3 linked regions of the Homo sapiens genome follow. The protein of the gene in region 2 purifies or fractionates together with the protein of the main gene of each other region. This does not show direct contact. Each region holds a gene or a part of one and is shown on either strand. Other genes may lie near its edges.

Region 1 (3,647 bases), on a different chromosome or scaffold from region 2:
TCCCCAGGTTGGACCCAGAGGGAGGGCACTGGGGAGACTGGGAGGTCTGGTGAGACTGCGGGGCTCCACCTGGGCCTGACCTCCCTCCCTCCACTTTGCTGCCCGGGGCTCGGCCACGCCTCCTTCTCCAGCCTTCTATGACCTTCAGGAGGCTGACCTTGATAAGGAGTTCCAGCTGCCGACAACCACCTTCATTGGGGGCTCTGAAAACACCCTCTCTCTGCGGGAGATCATTCGGCGCCTGGAGGTGAGCACAGGCGGGTGTGTGGGGTGCAGCTGAAGCAGCTCTTTGGAGCTTGCCAGAGGACGGGAAGGCACTGTCTTTTTTGTTCTAGACAGCAGGGATGTCAGCCGTCCCTCTTCCCCGCTCCTCATGGGGTCCCAATGTGTCTCCCCAGAACACCTACTGCCAGCACATTGGCCTGGAGTTCATGTTCATCAACGATGTGGAGCAGTGCCAGTGGATCCGGCAGAAGTTTGAGACCCCTGGTGTGATGCAGTTCTCCAGCGAGGAGAAGCGGACCCTGCTGGCCCGGCTAGTGCGCTCCATGAGGTTGGCACCACCTGGAGGGCCAAGTGGCTGGAGGTCCTGCTCCAGGGCTCTATGAGACGTCCCACACCCTGCCTAAGAGAGCAGGAGGGTACCACAGGAAGGCAGGACTGGATCGGCCTCACCACTGGCTGCAGGGAGGAGAGTTGGGACCAGGTGTTTAGGCAGTTTGGCCAAGAGCTGGCCCAAGGCAGAGCAGGTCAGGTGGGCAGGGATGAGGCTCTAGGAGAACAAGAGAGCGGGGACACTGAGCAAGGCCAGAAGTGGCGGGAAGTGGCTGTGGGAACATTTGGGCAGAAAATTATCCCTGGTGTGGAGTGACTGTGGCCACACCACCTGTCTGTTCACTGGACTTTTCTGAAGCTGGGTCCCCCAGGGCTGCAGGGGCTGGGGGAGCACCTGACTCAGCTGCTGGATGCAAAGTGGATTCCTGAGCAGCGAGGTGTGGGCTGGAGTTTGGATCTGGCTGGGTGGAGATCTTTGGGACTTGGCGAAGAGAGCCCTTGAGTGTGGCAGGAGGGTAGTGGGCTAGGAGTGGGTGGGCAGTGGCCTGTTGGAGGAGCTTGGCTATGAGGAAGAGAGAGGGCGGCAGCTGGGAAGGGGTGTAGGCAGAGGCGTTTGGTTCAGCTGGGAAGATGCCTAGCCTCCCCTAACCCTGTGTTCCTTTGCTGGGTGGGACAGGTGTATCCATGGTGGGCCCTGGACCATGTAGGTGGAAGGAGGATTTGTGACTTCCTCTGTCCTCAGCATTCAGCTCTGAGCACTCATGAACAGCCCCTGTGAGCCCCAGTCCCCTCCCTCTCCATCCCTTTCCCTTTCCTCTTCCCATCCTCTCCCCAAGCAGGTTTGAAGACTTCCTGGCCCGGAAATGGTCCTCAGAGAAGCGGTTTGGCCTGGAGGGCTGTGAAGTGATGATTCCTGCCCTCAAGACCATCATCGACAAATCCAGCGAGATGGGGATTGAGAATGTCATCTTGGGGATGCCACACAGGTGGGTCCCCCTCCCTGCTGTGCCTTGCGCATTCTCCTCCAGCCCAGGGGACAGAGGTGGGAGAGATGAGATGGAAATCAGAGCGGAGGTGTTGGTGGGACCTGGGGGTAGAGGTGGGTTTCCTGGAAAGTTCTGAGTCCTGGGCCTGGCCTGCTCGTCACAGAAATTGCCGGGTACTTGGCCAGAGTCACCTGGGGCCGGGTGCTAACCAGGTTATCAGGCACCCTCTCTCCCTGGCCATGTTGCCTCTGTCCCTAGCAAGGGTGAGATTTCAGAAAGCGGTACACTATACTTCTTGAGGTTCCTGTGGACAAGGAGAGGTGGAGGGATTTCTTCCAGGGAAGGGAGGGCAGGGCCTGGGCAGTTGTTCCCGGGTTGTGTCCCCAACAGGGAGGTCTGTGGAGGTGAGCCGAGGGTCTCTGACCTGGCTGCAAGCTGACTGCGTGTTCCCTTGACCTTGATGAAGATCTAGGAGGCTTGCTCAGCAGTGGGGCGTTACCTCTGAGCTGGAGCCTGTGGGGAAGCAGGAGGGGGAATGCACCCTGGGGGACAGAGACGTCTGTGGCCAGGGGTCCTGCTGAGTGGGCATGTGCAGATGTGCAGAGTGGCCTGTGGGAAGGGCCCTGGGCTTTTCCCGTGACCAGAGAGCTGCTTGTGGTTGGACTAGCCCAGGGCTACATCAGCATGAGGGCATCCAAATGCATGGTGCAGGGGTCCCCATTCGTGGCTGGCCTGCCAGGACTTTGGGGTTTGTCTGTCATGGGGGGCCTGGGAATGCCCAGTGTCTGGTCAGAGAGTTAGGCAGAGCTGGCCCAGTGGCCTGAGGCAGCAAGAAAGCATGGGGCTTTAAGCCTCGGGCCATTACAGCAGCAGGAGAGGATGGTGCCTGGTGATTGGGTGGCCTGAGGAGGGCTCTGGGCACGAAGGGGCTGTATTAGGCCAGGCCAGGCCTCCACAGTGGGGGAGGGAACCCTGAGGCCTGCGGGCTTTGCCAGGTGAGAGCCCGGCCCCTCTGGCTCCAGGGGAAGGCTGAACGTGCTGGCCAACGTGATCCGCAAGGACCTGGAGCAGATCTTCTGCCAGTTTGACCCCAAGCTGGAGGCGGCGGACGAGGTGGGTGCCATGCCCAGGTCCCGGCACCCTTGGAGAGCTGGGTGTTTGGGAGGTGGACTGTGGAGGGGCTGAGCCGGGAGCTTCCGGGCTGAGATAAACCTTAAGATGGATGCATTGGAGAAGCCTGCAGGAGAGAGGCTGGGTGTTTGCCTGAGGACCCTAAGGCTTTTTGGAGCAAGGGCTGCAGTCTCTGGTAGCTGGGAGGGCCCTCAGATAATCTGGGTCAACCTCCCTGTTTTGAGCTAGGGAAACTGAAGCCCAAAGATGCAAAGGCTTGCTGGAAGTTGCTCAGTTCTGCTCATGTGGCTGTGCCTCCATGTCCAAAGTCCTGTCCACCAGCCAGGAATGACTCCCTTGCTCATTTGTTTGCCCAGCAGAGCCTTGGGAGGTGAGGATGGTTTTCCGTACCCATCGACCTGCTGAGGAAATGTTGTTCCTGCTCCCACCCCCTCCCTGGGAGGCCTGGGCCAGGCCTTCAGCCCATACTGCCTAGCCTCTTTCTTTCCTTTTCTTTTTGAGATGGGGTTTTGCTCTTGTTGCCCAGGCTGGAGTGCAATGGCATGATCTTGGCTCACTGCAACCTCTGCCTCCTGGGTTCAAGCGATTCTCCTGCCTCAACCTTCCAAGCAGCTGGGATTACAGGCATGCGCCACCACGCCCGGCTAATTTTTGTATTTTTAGTAGAGATGGGGTTTTGCCATGTTGGTCAGGCTGGTCTTGAACTCCTGGCCTCAGGTGATCTGCCTGCCTCGGCCTCCCAAAGTGCTGGGATTACAGGCATGGAGCCACCGCTTCCGGCCACTGCCTAGCCTCTTTCAAAGTCCTGCCCATCTTCCCTTTCGGTGGCTCTCTGGGTCCCCTGGGCAGTGAGCCTGTCACTCCCTCCTCTGTGTCCCTTTGCCCTCAGGACTATCTCTCCTGCTGTCTCCAGCCTGCTGCCGTGTGTGTGTGTGTGTGTGTGTGTGTGTGTGTGTGTGTGTGTGGACCCATACC
Region 2 (3,647 bases):
GGAAAAATATTCCATTAGAATAACTAATACTGTCAAAGTACCGTATTATCATAAGTGATCTATATATTCAAAGTGAAAATTTTAGTGTCATTTTTCACAGTAATAGAAAACACAATTTTGAAACTTAAGTGTAACCTTAAACAACTTTAACACTGATTGGCTGGGCACGGTGGCTCACGCCTGTAATCCCCAGCACTTTGGGAGGCCGAGGTGGGCAGATCACGAGGTCAGATAGAGACCATCCTGGCTAACATGGTGAAACCCCATCTCTACTAAAAATACAAAAAATTAGCCGGGCGTGGTGGCGGGCACCTGTAGTCCCAGCTACTTGGGAGGCTGAGGCAGGAGAATGGTGTGAACCCGGGAGGCAGACCTTGCAGTGAGTAGATATCGCGCCACTGCACTCCAGCCTGGGTGACAGCGAGACTCCATCTCAAAAACAAAACAAAACAAAACAAAACAAAAAAACTTTAACATTGATTGATGGTGATTGTTAGTGCCTGAGGGTGGAAAATACGGAAATGTTGTTCAAAGAGTACAAATTTTTAGTTGTAACTTGAGTAACTCTGAAAAATCTAAAGTACATTCAGCATTAGATCAGCAAAATAGCATTATTTATAGTTAGTAATACTGTAATGTATGCTTACAATTTGCTACAACAGTAGACCTTAAGTGTTCTTACTACAAAAAAACTGGTTATCTACCTGAGGTAATAGATGTGTTCACTAACTTGACTATATTTTATTTTACAATGTATATACATATCAAATCATTATACTGTACACATTATACAATTTTTATTTATCAGAAAAATCCAGGTTGCACATGTATGTACAGTAAGTCCTCACTTTATGTTCAAAATAGGTTCATGAAAAGTGCATCTTTAAATGAACATTGTTGCTATATGTCATGCAAACATAACTCTTGTATTAAATTCTGGTAAAAATTAGTTTACTTAATATGTTGCTTCACTTACTGTTTCCAAGAACCTATCAGCAAAGTTAAGTAAGAATTTATTATACACATATATAACTTATATAGGTATGTGTATGTGTGTGAGACACACATTTTTATATATAGATAGATCTCAACAGAACTTCAGTAGGCTTCCTACTAAATAAGACAAAATTAAAAGATAATAGTTATTAAGAAATAAGGTAATAATTGAGAGCTTACTATACACTTAGCAATGTTCTAAGCTGGTTGATGACAGTGCATTTAAGAAATCTAGAAGGTGAGTAGATACCTTAAATCAGTGGTGGCCAACCCTTTGAATGTGAGGGCATTTTTACTTATCTGTGGTAGTGGATATCACAAAAATTATTCACAAACCTTTTTTTTTTTAAACTCATCAGCTATTATTAGTGTTACCATATATATATATATATATATATATATATATATATTTTTTTTTTTTTTTTTTTAAGATGGAGTCTTGCTGTGTTGCCCAGGCTGGAGTGCCTGTGGCACGATCTCAGCTCACTGCAAACTCCACCTCCTGGGGTCAAGCAATTCTCCTACCTCAGCCTCCCAAGTAGCTGGGATTACAGGTGCGCACAACCATGCCAGGCTAATTTTTGTATTTTTAGTAGAGATGGGGTTTCACCATGCTTGCCAGGCTGGTCTCTAACTCCTGACCTCATGATCTGCCCCCTCGGTCTCCCAAAGTGCTGGGATTACAGGTGTGAGCCACCGTGTCCGGCCACGTTACTGTATTTTATGTGTGGCCAAGACAATTTTTCCTCCAATGTGGTCCAAGGAAGCCAAAAGGTTGGAAACCCATGCTTTAAATAATTTGAAAACTTGCAAAAATAGAGTTTAAATTACAAATCTCAGTTTATATTAAAACAATAACATTTTGAAGTAAAATAAAATTACATTTTTTCATATTTAGGAAAACACTTATTGTTCTGATAAAATTGCTGAGTAAGAATTTTTGTAGAATTACATTTGCAACCTCTATAGGATTAAAAATCACTAAGCAGAAAAGATGCAATACCTGCAACAACTGTCTCTGGTGTTCCTGGGATCTCTGAACCAAATCCCAATATATCCACTAGTCACCGTACACATTTTAGACATGATGCAAAGACAATATTTGAAAAAAAGAAAAACTTTAACATAGAGCTCCTCAATAATACAAATGTTCCCAGGTCCCCAAAAGCAATGAACAGCAGTCAGATCATGTAGCCCTTTGTAAGTGATAAAGTGGACACTGGCACTCCCTGTAAACTTGAAGGGAGATCACTAAAGGAAAAACAGAATTCTTAGATTTAAGAGCATGGGAGAGAAGATGACCCTAAGAGAAAAAATGCAGCCTTTTCAGAAATTATTTTCTTTGTCACAGAGCTTCCCAAACTACATTTATTTATTTATTTGAGACAGAGTCTAGCTCTATATTGCCCAGGAGGGAGTGCAGTGGCGCAATCACAACCTCTGCCTCCTGGGTTTTTTTTTTTTTTTTTGAGACTGAATCTCGCTCTGTCGCCCAGGCTGGAGTGCAGTGGCACGATCTCAGCCGACCGCAACCTCTGCCTCCTGGGTTTTTTTTTTTTTTGAGACGGAGTCTCGCTCTGTCGCTCAGGCTGGAGTGCAGTGGCACGATCTCGGCTCACTGCAAGCTCCGACTCCTGGGTTCACGCCATTCTCCTGCCTCAGCCTCCTGAGTAGCTGGGACTACAGGCGCCCGCCACCACACCCGGCTAATTTTTTGTATTTTTAGTAGAGATGGAGTTTCACCATGTTAGATAGGATGGTCTCGATCTCCTGACCTCATGATCCACCCGCCTCGGCCGCCTCCTGTGTTTTTAAGCAATTCTCTCTGCCTCAGCCTCCCAAGTAGCTGGGATTACAGGCGCCCGCCACCACACCCGGCTAATTTTTGTATTTTTAGTAGAGACGGGGTTTCACTATGTTGGCTAGGCTGGTCTTGAACTCCTGATCTCAGGTGATCCACCCACCTCGGCCTCCCAAAGTGCTGGGATTACAGGCGTGAGCCACGGTGCTCAGCCTCTCAAACAACATTTGAAGGCCTGGCTTCCTTCTTGACTTTTGGCCTCCTTGTCTGTGTCCTCTCCTCCATTCACTCTCACCTACCTGGGGGTCTGGCTGCTGTTTCATGTATCTTCAAATTGTAGGGCTCTTTTCTTTGCTCCAGACTGGTGACCAGGTCTGGGTTAGAGATACTAACACCTGTTTTATTAAAAAAAAAATTAACATGACTATTGCTGGGGATACTCCAATTACCAACCTAGTACTATGCTAAGTAGAATAGAGAAATTAGGGAAGATTCTAGAAAATTAATCCAAAAATTGTTTTCCGACAGAATCTGTAGAATATTTAAGTATTTTAAATCTGTGGGCTTTAAGTTCCACTACCGAGTACTACTGAATCAAAAATAAGTAGTGCAAATTGCATGTTAAGATGTGAAAGACAATTATTTTATATCATTAATTTCTAGAATTACCACTAGCCTAGAGCGAAGGAAACAAATTAGCTCAAAAGAAGGTTTATGTAAAGATGAAACATCCTAAAGATTTTATTTTTTATACCACCAAACTCCCAACTTTTTCGTGAAGGAACTGAAATTAATTCATGCAAAGCAGAAGCTCTCAAGAGACATTCTACAAAGGAAGAAAATGAAATTC
Region 3 (3,647 bases), on a different chromosome or scaffold from region 2:
AGCCCCCCCTTCAGAGGGAAGGACCCACCCTGCTGAGGGCGGCCTCCCCTGGGGGACGGGACAGGGATGGGGCTGGCTCCCGCATACCTTGCGCATCTGGCGGTAGTACTTCTGGTAGTCGGGAGGGTTATCTGGGACCTGGGCAGCATCGAGGGCAAATGTGGAAGCAGAGAACACGTCACCACGGGACGTCCCCATCTGGGACATCGCTGAGACAGACTGGGCAGGACTGGAGAGGCAGAACGTGCCTGGGAGCTTACTCTGCCGGCCACAGCCACCACTGGTGCTGCGAGGCGCGCGAGGGCCTGCACCTGTTTAGCTCACCACCCACAGCTGCTGGGAAACGTGACTGGCCAGCGAGGGCTCAAACCAGCCCAGACGGGACTGGGAGTCAGCACCTGACTCCCCTGTGATCTCCCCACCGGCCAGAAGGCAGGGAGGGGGCCCAGGTCTCTGCGGGTGTGCTCTGTGCCAGGCGCCCCCAATGCCTCCTGAACAACCTCAGCTTCTGGCTGCCTCTCTCACCTCAGTGAGAAGGGAAGAGGCCTGGAGTGCCGTAGGGTTCAGTCAGCCTCCCCAAGTCCCCATCACCCAGAGCAAGTCCTGGGCAGGAGGCAGGAGCAGGAGCAGGCCACCATTGGGCCAGGCACAGCAGGACAATGCCCCTCCTCTGCTTGAGCCCAAGATGGGTGCCAGCCTTGGCCACACAGAGGCCAGGAAGACCCAGAAGCCCTGCAGAACAATGTCCTAGTGAGAGCTGAAGGGAGGGAGACGGGGCTGGGGGGCAGCGGTTCCAGGCAGAGGGACACTGGCTGAGGCCGTGGCCGGGACAGGGTGTGGGAGACACGGGAGGTTGGGGCGCATGTATGGGATGACTGTGGCTGCAGACTGGGGTGCAGGCACGTGTGAGAGACACTGAGGTCAAACTATGGGCTCGGGCAGGGTCTGTGGGCAGCTGATCTGGCAGGAGGGACCGGGGCTTTTGCTGCAAACAGTCTCAGGAGGGCAAGTCCACAGGCTGGCGTCACCTCCATGGGCAGAAGGTGCTTCAGAGACATGGAGGTGCCGTGTAGGCTGTGCAGCTCAGGGTACACAGCCCCTGCCCGTGCCTGGCCCTTGCACACAGTGGCTCCAACATGAGCAGGACGCAGAAACTGCCAGCACCCCCAGCACCCTGCAGGCCTCAGAGAGCTGCCCCAGGTGAGGCCAGCCCGAGGAGGACCGGTGGATGGAGCAGGGGCTAGGGAGGGGATGGGAGGGTGGGGGTGACCTGAAACACCAGTGCAGGAAATAGGGCAGGGTGGAGGTGAGGTGGGCACTTCTGCCTGCAGGAGCTCCCAGCCCTGATCCCCCTCTTCAGCCCCCTCAGAGCCCCAGGCACCGGCCTCACCTGTGAGAGCCTCAGGAACTCATGAGCCTTCTGCAGGCAGGACGAAAACTCGGGCCTGTGGTGCCCGCCCGCCTGGAAGAGACAGCAGGACAGAGAGGCTCAGCTGCCCTTGCACGGCCAGCATGGCTGCGCTGGTTTCCCGATGGTCCTGGCCACATCCTGCCCCAACCGGGGACCAGAATCAAACCAGCAGACATCTCCAGAGAGTGCCAGGGTCTCCTGCTGCACTTACCTTTAAAGACAAAACAGCAAAAGTCCATGAGATATGACTGAAGATGGAAGGGCGCAGGAGACCATTTATGGATGCCAGCACCCCCCTGCCTGGCCAGCATCCATGCCCAGAGGGTCTCCAGCACCCTGTGTAGGCAGGCCCTTTGCGTGGCCCAGCCCTCAGGGCTCTCCAGAAACACCTTCAGAATCCCACCTACCTCATTCCCACCGGCATAAAAATCCACTCTCGTTTTTCTCCAGTACTGGCTCGAGAATGCCCATAACAAACAGTTCCAGTTCTTTTTTTTTTTTTTTTTTTTTGAGACGGAGCCTCTCTCTGTCACCCAGGCTGGAGTGCAGTGGCACAATCTCGGCTCGCTGCACCCTCCACTTCCCGGGTTCAAGCAATTCTCTGCCTCAGCCTCCCAAGTAGCTGGGATTACAGGTGCCCGCCACCACGCTTGGCTAATTTTTGTGTACTTTTAGTAGAGACGGGGTTTCACCATCTTGGCCAGGCTGGTCTTGAACTCCTGACCTCGTGATCCACCCTCCTCGGCCTCCCAAAGTGCTGGGATTACAGGTGTGAGCCACCGTGCCTGGCCCAAGCAGTTCCAGTTCTAAGAAGAGCCTGGAGTCCCACTCCTGCCTGCACTCTCAGAAACAGCCTTCACCAGACTCCCCTTCTCACACAGCCTCCAGCCCCTGCCCTCCCAAGGCCCCCGACCCAGCCCAACACCCAAGGCTGCTGGCCAAGGCCGCCCCCTCCACAGCACGACCCTCTGAAGCCAGAGGCCAGAGCCCAGGTCACTGGAAGTATCGAGGAGTGGCAAGTGTGTGGCCAGCAGTGCTGCCCTCAGGTGGATGCGTGGGCTCACGTGCACAGGAAGGTCAGCTGAGGCTGAGAAAAGAGAAGGAGCCACGAACCTCAAGCAGAGCCTGGATGGCGAATGCGGTGTCCCAGATCTGTGAGCCGTTGGTGCCCTACACACAAAGGATGGTGTTACAGCAGCAGATGCAGCCCCTCCCACTCCCAGCCACTGCCTCCAGGATCCAATGGGCGCCTGAGGGCCAGGTGTGGGGGCTCCCACCCAGCCAACGCTCAGCCTCAGGCTCTGAGCCCTGGGCACCCCTCATGGCTGACAAGGGCCTCAGAGAAGGCTGAGCCCTGCAGGCAGACACACGTCGGGGAGACTCAGGGAGCCCTCCCTTTCTTCATGGGCCACCAGGCAGGACAGTGTCCCTCTGAGGACACTTCTAGGACTGGACGATCCCTTAGAGGCTCCAGCACCTACACATAGAGCATCCAGCTGCTCTCACCCAATGACAGTGGCGCACCTCAGTCATGGTGATGCCTGGAAATGACCCCATTTCTTTTTTTTTTGAGATGAAGTCTCGCTCTGTTGCCCAGGCTGGAGTGCAGTGGCGTGATCTCAGCTCGCTGCAAGCTCCGCCTCCTGGGTTCACGCCATTCTCCTGCCTCAGCCTCCGGAGTAGCTGGGATTACAGGCTCCTGCCAGCACACCCAGCTAATTTTTTTTGTATTTTTTAGTAGCATCGGGGTTTCACCATGTTAGCCAGGATGGTCTCTATCTCCTGACCTTGTGATCCGCCCACCTTGGCCTCCCAAAGTGTAGGGATTACAGGCGTGAGCCACCGCACCTGGCCAATGATCCCCATTTCTGAGTACACCTGGAGGTGATGGGAATTCTGCACAGGGCTGGGAAGGCTCCACCTCAAATCTCACCCCGAGCTGGGCTCACAGGTACACAGCCTGGTCTCAGTTCAAAGGGCCGGTGACCAAACCCTAGTGAGACAGAGCTGGGCACTGACCAGACAGACATGGGGACTGGGCAGGGGGTGGTGTGTGGCAGAGGCATCCAGACATCGTGCACTGGAGGGACAAGGCAGGGACCACCAGAAAAGCATTCTCGCCAAAGAAACACAATGGGATCGAGCCTCAGGGCCTGGCCAGTTTACAAAAACTCAGGGAACATAAGAAGCAACCAGTCAGATCTGCAATGTGAAGCCCTTCAGGAACAAACCTTCC

The links.
Region 1: the proteins of ZNF718 (region 2) and OGDHL purify together in Homo sapiens (affinity purification with mass spectrometry; one large-scale study listed by BioGRID and IntAct). This does not show direct contact.
Region 3: the proteins of ZNF718 (region 2) and LSS purify together in Homo sapiens (affinity purification with mass spectrometry; one large-scale study listed by BioGRID and IntAct). This does not show direct contact.

Annotation. Positions count from the first base shown.
Region 1 is NC_000010.11:49,748,733-49,752,379, reverse strand, and holds part of OGDHL (2-oxoglutarate dehydrogenase-like, mitochondrial), read left to right. Parts: intron 1-131; coding exon 132-247; intron 248-398; coding exon 399-553; intron 554-1,394; coding exon 1,395-1,541; intron 1,542-2,563; coding exon 2,564-2,654; intron 2,655-3,647.
Region 2 is NC_000004.12:130,955-134,601, reverse strand, and holds part of ZNF718 (zinc finger protein 718), read right to left. Parts: intron 3,193-3,647; coding exon 3,097-3,192; intron 1-3,096. UniProt on the Homo sapiens protein: May be involved in transcriptional regulation.
Region 3 is NC_000021.9:46,208,164-46,211,810, forward strand, and holds part of LSS (lanosterol synthase), read right to left. Parts: intron 2,582-3,647; coding exon 2,525-2,581; intron 1,463-2,524; coding exon 1,391-1,462; intron 139-1,390; coding exon 88-138; intron 1-87. UniProt on the Homo sapiens protein: Key enzyme in the cholesterol biosynthesis pathway. Catalyzes the cyclization of (S)-2,3 oxidosqualene to lanosterol, a reaction that forms the sterol nucleus.